Homo sapiens: one gene and its partner. The protein of the gene in region 2 purifies or fractionates together with the protein of the main gene of each other region. This does not show direct contact. Each region holds a gene or a part of one and is shown on either strand. Other genes may lie near its edges.

Evidence for each region. The genes of interacting proteins can lie anywhere in the genome.
Region 1: the proteins of UNC5B (region 2) and NEO1 purify together in Homo sapiens (co-immunoprecipitation; one study listed by IntAct). This does not show direct contact.

What each region holds. Positions count from the first base shown.
Region 1 is NC_000015.10:73,286,463-73,289,962, reverse strand, and holds part of NEO1 (neogenin isoform 1 precursor), read right to left. Parts: intron 1,651-3,500; coding exon 1,412-1,650; intron 818-1,411; coding exon 725-817; intron 1-724. UniProt on the Homo sapiens protein: Multi-functional cell surface receptor regulating cell adhesion in many diverse developmental processes, including neural tube and mammary gland formation, myogenesis and angiogenesis.
Region 2 is NC_000010.11:71,292,570-71,296,069, reverse strand, and holds part of UNC5B (netrin receptor UNC5B isoform 1 precursor), read right to left. Parts: intron 2,666-3,500; coding exon 2,497-2,665; intron 2,371-2,496; coding exon 2,137-2,370; intron 260-2,136; coding exon 110-259; intron 1-109. UniProt on the Homo sapiens protein: Receptor for netrin required for axon guidance. Mediates axon repulsion of neuronal growth cones in the developing nervous system upon ligand binding.

The DNA of each region.
Region 1 (3,500 bases), on a different chromosome or scaffold from region 2:
TTTTATTTTTTTTGAGACAGAGTCTCACTCTGTCACCCAGGCTGGAGTGCAACAGCACGATTTTGGCTCACTGCAACCTCTGCTTCCCAGGTTCAAGTGATTCTCATGCCTCAGCCACCTGAGTAGCTGGGATTATAGACATGTACCACCATACCTGGCTAATTTTTAATTTTATTTTTTTTGGTAGAGATGGGGTCCCACTACATTGCCCAGGCTGGTCTAGAACTCCTGGCCTCCAGCAATCCTCCCACTTTGGTCTCCCAAAACTCTAGGATTATAGGTGTGGGCCATCTTGCTTGGCCTTCAAATCTATTAATTAAAAAAATAAATTTCACAGGTGCTCATCAGCACTGGTGTCAGGCAGCGTAATGAAAACTTGTAACATCAGACCATCCTTAGCTCTAGTCTGGAGGAGGGAAGCTTTCCCATCTCTCCCATAGAGATATGATGCACTTTTAGGGAGACTAGTTACTCCCCTATTCCTGGGAATCTGGAGACATTGGCTTTTCAGCTTATTTACCATAAACATAACGACGCTAGCCTCAAGAATAATGTTTGTTGCAAAATATGGCAAGTGTTTGGTACTTCCTCCTTCAAGGTGTCAAAGCTTTGGTAGATTATCTTTGTGTTAGAATCAAGTGAAGTCAAAAAGATCATTCATAGTTGTTCCCCTACATGACTGAACAGATTGGTAGCACTGAGGAAAAGAGATGCTTCTACTTACGCTGGGGTGGCTGGGAGTCAAAGGGCATCATCATTTTTGGTCTCATTCCTCGCCTTCCAGCCAGTGTAGACATGCTGTCCTCTGACTCATGCCCTAGATGTTAAACGTGGAGGTTAGTTACCAGCATGTGCCCTATGCCACTGAGCAGCCTCAACAGTGAAACATTTCTAGTAGGGGATTCAGAATTCACAAACAGCATAATGGGGACAAGACATTTCTGTAAGAAGTGAAATAAAGAGGAAAATGATCATTAGAGCATTACAAGAGTTCCTGCTGAATCAATGTGGATGTCACAATGCTGCCCACCATACTTCACAGGGTGTCTATAAGAGCCTCCAGACCAAGAATGTTCTGAATACCACAATGCAAGCTGGAAGCCAGCTGAAGACACAGAATGAAATGCACAGACATGGGCTAGCTAGCCTCAAATCCTTGAATATCACGCTGCTGAAGCCTGATGAGAGACCTAAAAGATCTGCAAGATTGTCTCGTATGGCTACAGAATCTCTCTCCCATAAGAAGCTAGGTATTCTTCATCATATGTTCCCAAATCTTATCATACACATTTCTCTAAATCTGATCTCATATAGGAATTGCCAAATGAAGGCAAACTCAGGGAAAAAAAAAAAGATTTAAATGAAAATAGTTTCCTAACATTTGAGAAAAAACCTGCACTTAAAATGGTACCTCTGTATGAATTTCGCCTTTGATGGATATTGCTGTCCATGGAGTTGTCAACTGGTGTGATATCTTGAGAGTTGCGAGGAATTGGAGTATCAGTCATGATGGGGTTTGGGTCTGGAGACTTATCAATGGGTTTCAGCTCCAGTCTCTCATGATGGATCCAGAGATCTGGAGGTTTCACATCTTTGGAATTCCCTTTGTACTTATGAGAGCCATTCACTGATTTGCAGGCAGCTCGTTTCCTAGGCACGAAGTTCAGAGGAGCTTTTAAAAAGTAACTCATTTGAACGTATTTGTCAAAAGGCTTGAGTGATTAAAACTTCCTTTCTGAGAGATGTTTCAAGCAAAAAAAGCAAAAACTAAAAACATACCTCCTGCCCCCAACAACAACAACAACAACAACAAGTTTGCTCCTGGGGAGAGTAAATGTATCTCTATTTTGTCCACACATATTTAGAGATACTTACCAGGGTCTTTATGTTTGAATCCTGCCTTGTGACTACTTTTTTTGACTGTTAAAAGATTAAGATAGCATTTTTCATTATATAATCTCATAACCAGAAGGTTCATCCACAAGTTTCTAATTAGAGCAATGTAGAAACATAACAATGGAGTAGAGGGAAAGTCTGTGGCTTATAAAGGAGGGAGGCAAAAACTTTTTTTGTTTTTTTTTTTTGAGATGGAGTTTTGCTCGTCGCCCAAGCTACAGTGTAATGGCGAGATATCGGCTCATTGCAACCTGGCCTCCTGGGTTCAAGAGATTCTCCTGCCTCAGCTTCCTGAGTAGCTGGGATTACAGGCGTCCACCACCACACCCAGCTAATTTTTGTGTTTTTAGTAGAGACAGGGTTTCACCATGTTGGCCAGGCTGTTCTCGAATTCCTGAACTCAGGTGATCTGCCGCCTTGGCCTCCCAAAGTGCTGGGATTACAGGCGTGAGCCACTGTACCTGGCCGGAACAACTTCGAAGACTGCCAAACTAGGACTACCAACTAGGTGGAGTCAAGAATGGGGACAACAATGTCTACTTCTCTGTGTTTTAGCTTCTCCATTCACTCTCTTACTTACCCCTAATGAGGACATACTGGGTACCCAGTATATGCCAGACCCTGTGCTAGACTGCTGTGCCCTCAGAATTTTTGATAAAGTGAGGAATACAGACGTTGAACTATTATTTTAAAATGTTCTGAGCTTACTGAAATGTCAAGTGTTAGAGTAACTTCTTAACAGTTGGACTTAAGCTGAACAGGAAAAACCTAGAGGAGGAAGTGACATTTAAGCTAAGACCTAAAGGGAACAGAAAGTGCATTCCAGGTGGTGAAATCAGCTTATGTCAAAACCCTAAAGCAGAGTGCAATGCCCTGGTGGTATATTAGAAGGATTTTAAGAAATCCTGAGTGGTGGGGACATAGTGAACCCTGCAGAGAATGATGTGAAATAATACTAGAAAGGTAGTCAGGGACCAGATCATAAAGAGCTTTTAGGGCAATGCTAAGAGTGTGAACTTCCCTTTGTGAGTAATGAGAAACCATTAAATGGTTTTAAGCAAGAGAGTAAGGAGAACACTTTTGAGTTAAAACTTTATACCAGCTGTGATGTGAAGAATAGCTCTGTGGGGTTGGGGATAGAAGAGGAGACCAGCTAGGATGCTACTGCAATCTCAGCCATAACTGATGGCATGGGACAGTGGGAGTAGAGGCAAGAGGCAGATTTGAAAGTTATTCAGGAGGCAGACATGACAGGTCTTGGTAAATAAATGGATGTAGGGTGAGGTGGGAGTAAAGAAGAAAGAGGAGTACAGGATGATGCTAAGGTTTCTGATTTAAGCCACTTAATATTGGGAATAAAGGAGCAGAAGCGGGTTTGCCTGAAAAGATGATGAATTCTGCTCTGGACATGCTGAATTTGAAATGTCTCTGAGACATTCAAGAGGAAATGTAGAAGAGGCAACTGTGTGTGCAAGTCTGATACTCAGAGGAGGGAGGCCTTGGCTGGAGACAGAAATACAAAAGTAGCTGGAATGCTGAAGCCACGGGAGCAGATGAGATCACTTGGGGAGAACACAGAAGGAGAAGAGAGTAAGTCCAGGCCC
Region 2 (3,500 bases):
GAGGGGTAAGGCCACAGGACAGAGCTAGGAGGCAGGGCCCGGGAGGGAGCTGGGCTTCCCGGGCAGCCCTTAAGTGGTGCCCCTCCCCATCCATCAGCCCAGCCCTCACCTGGTATTTGGCCAGCAGCTTGCTCCTCCAATGGGCATGGGGGAGGTCATGGAGGGAGAGGCGCAGGTTGTGGTAACTGTCCTTGAACATTAGCGGTTTCGGCTCCTCCACCAAGTATCCGCCCAGAGTCCGCTCCAGCTCCAGCACCTCCTGTGGGCCAGGGGCATGGGGAAGGGGAACCCATCACACCTGGCCAATGGGCCTCTTCTGTGGCACTGTGCGGGGCAGGGGGCAGGGGCCCATCTGAGTGCATGGCTGGGCATTTGCAAGAGCTCACAGAGGGCTTATGGTGTGAGAAGATGAATAGATGACGGATGGATAGACAGACAGTGGGAAAGATGACTAGATGAATGAATCTATAGATGACCGTATGGCTAGAGGGACTAATAAATGGACAGATGGATGGATAAACGGATTGATGGCTAGAAAGACAGACAGATGAATATACAGATGGATATACAAGGATGGGTATATGAATAGAAAGATGGAAGAAAAGATAAATGAATGGATAGACGAGCAATGACTGGGTAAACAGATGGGCTGCTGACTGAATGGGTATATGGTCAGATGAACAGAAAGACAGATGGATGGATGAACAGATGGACAGATGGATGGATGGAGGGTTGAATAAACAAAGAATGCCATCAGGCCCAAACCTGGTAACTTCTCTCTTGATTTCTATACCACTCTCTGGCCAAAGCTGGCCATTAGCCAACGCCCCAGGACCAAGAGATCCAGCTGCAGGAGCACTTCCCAGGCACCTTGCACCCATCACAGGGCCACTGGCATCTCAAGCCAGGGTCCTCCCAGCAGGGGACACTCCTTCTCCCATGGGCCTTTCACCTATGTTGTCTGCAGTGTGGGCTTTGGGACAAGTCCCATGAGCCTGGGAGATGAAGGAGCTGGACGGGGCCAGGGAGCAGGAACAGAAAGTGCATGGAGCCATGGGAAAGGACCATGAGGCGCTGAGGAGGGCAGATGGGAGGAGGGAGGGGAAGGGGCTCACACACGGCCAAGTGTCTGTATGCTTCCAGGGTTACATCAGGATGAGCCTGAGCTCCTGAGAATGGGAGGAGAACTTGGGGGAATGCACAAGGGCTCTGAGGCTGGCAGGGGACAGTGGTGCTAACACGGGGCTCCATACCTGCCATCATCAGGCTCTAGGTACTAAAAGACCCTTCCCTCCCCTTCCCTCCCTCCTGTCCCAACCACCCCTCATCTGCATGACCCTTCCTTCACTTGGGGCACCGCTCTCCATCCTTCTGCATATGCTAGGAGCCTGGCTGTCAGCCTTAACTTCCCTCTCCCACTGCCCATCCCATCAGTCACCGGTTCTGTCCATTTGACTGAGCACACGCAGCATCCAGCCCCGCCTCTCCTGGCTGCTGTCACTCCCTGTGGCCCAGGGTCCAACCCCAGCTTCCCAACAGGCCTCTCCACCTCTCATCTACCCACCCAAGTATAGCCACAGGGGCTTTCTAAAGAGCACCTGTGAACAGGTGTCTACCAGGTCCATTCCCCTTCCTGCCGGATGGATTCCAAATTCCTTGGCAAGGGGCCCTGAGGCTTCTGGGAAGCTGAGCCCTGCCCATCTCGCCCGCCCTCACATTCACACATTCCCTATGCCTTTTAGTTGGTCATGCTGAAACGCTTATGAAACGCAGTCATTTCTGTCGGTCTGGAATGCCCTTCACTCCTTTCTGCTGAAACTCCTACATGTCAGCCTTCTCAGAGTCCCTCCCTACCAGCCCAAGCCCCTCCCAGTCTGATGCTCCCTCAGTCCTGGGGCAGACCCCATCAGAGCCTTCAGGGATCCCTGGTCTGCCTCCCACCTCTAACCTGGATCTTGGTGAGGCAGGCCCTGTGCCCAAGGCTGTTTCAGTGTGTGAGGGTCGCAAGCGGGACCTAATAATGCTGGTGGCGGGGAGGGGTTCCTGGGAGGACCCATGAGCCTGGGGTGGGGGATTCTGGCAGGGATCATGCAGCTGGCCGGCCAGGGCTGTGTGGGCACCTGCAGCTGGCCCTACCTTCAGTGCTACAGGCGTGTCCTCCAGGCAGTAGACCCGGAGGCTGTACTCCAGGGAGGTGCAGAGGGCGGGGGCGAAGACGGCCAGCTGGAGCCGCTTGACTGCTGAGCGGGAATAGGACTCGCCCGTGAACACGTAGGTGCCCAGCTGGTCCAGCAGGATGTGACAGGCCCTGGGCTCCAGCTGGCAGTAGCAGGGTGTGTTCAGGGTCTCCTCATCCAGGGTCACCACCTCCTGTAGGGGACAGCAAGGGTGGGGTAGTGGTCACAGTTATTCAGGCTGGGCCAGAGGAAAAGGGCTTTCTTTTGCCTCCCTGGGCAGGTTGGGAGAGCTGGGCCAGCCTTCACCGTGGCTCCTCACCTCCCAGTGGCCCTGGTGGGCCTGGGTCTTGAGCTGAAAGATCCAGTCACGGGCACTGACTTCGGCACAGTGGGGCATGGTGAGGATGACGGGGCGGCACAGCAGGAGGCCTGTGGGTCCACAGGTCACCGAGGGGCTCAATACTGTCTGGGTCCCTTCTGAAAGCGGGCTGGAGGAGGACACAGGGTAGGAGAGAGGCAGTGAAGAGCTCGGCAAAGGTGCAGGCTCCTGCTGGGCTCCCAAGTCTGCCCAGGGCCCGGGAGGTGGAGGGCAGCTCTTTGCCACTCAGGGCTCTGCATTCCCAGAGGTCATGGGGGCAAAGGAGGCAAAGAAAATGGCATGAACCTTGAGGTTGTTTCCAGATTTTTGCTATTCCACTGCAACATTATCATAGCTCAAAATTCCTGGCTTATATTTTCCAAGGTTGTGTAATCTTGGAAGGTTTTCAATAGGTCACGCTAAAGTGCCCTCCAGGGAGCTGGTTCCAATCTATACTCCCGGCCACGTGCCACAGAAGGCCATGTTCCCACCCCCTTGCCAGCAAGAGGGTATTATCATTTGGGAAAAGGTCCTTGCAAATTCCTTAATAATAATAATTTAAAAATCCCAGTATACCTTGTGGTGGTTTTCATTAGTTTTCTCTGCAAATTAGACTAAACATTTTCTCATAACCTACTGGCCAGTGTGTTTGTGTGAGACAGTGTGTGTGAATCACGTGTTCATATCCTTTGCCCATTTTCACAGTGAGATGTTTACTTTTTCTTATTGATCTACAAAATCTCTTTACATAGTAAGGATATTCAGCCCTTTGTCACACTTGTAGCCAGCTTGTCAACCGCCTTTGAGTTTTACAATTTACGGTGTTGGTTCTGCAAGTTTTCAATATGGACACAGTAAGATTAATACTTTCCTTGGAGGACTGTTTGGTCTTGGCATCAGGCTTAGAAGGGGAGCCACGTGTGGGCAGGCAGCAAGGGATGGGAGGAAGAAAAAGGAGCAGCGGC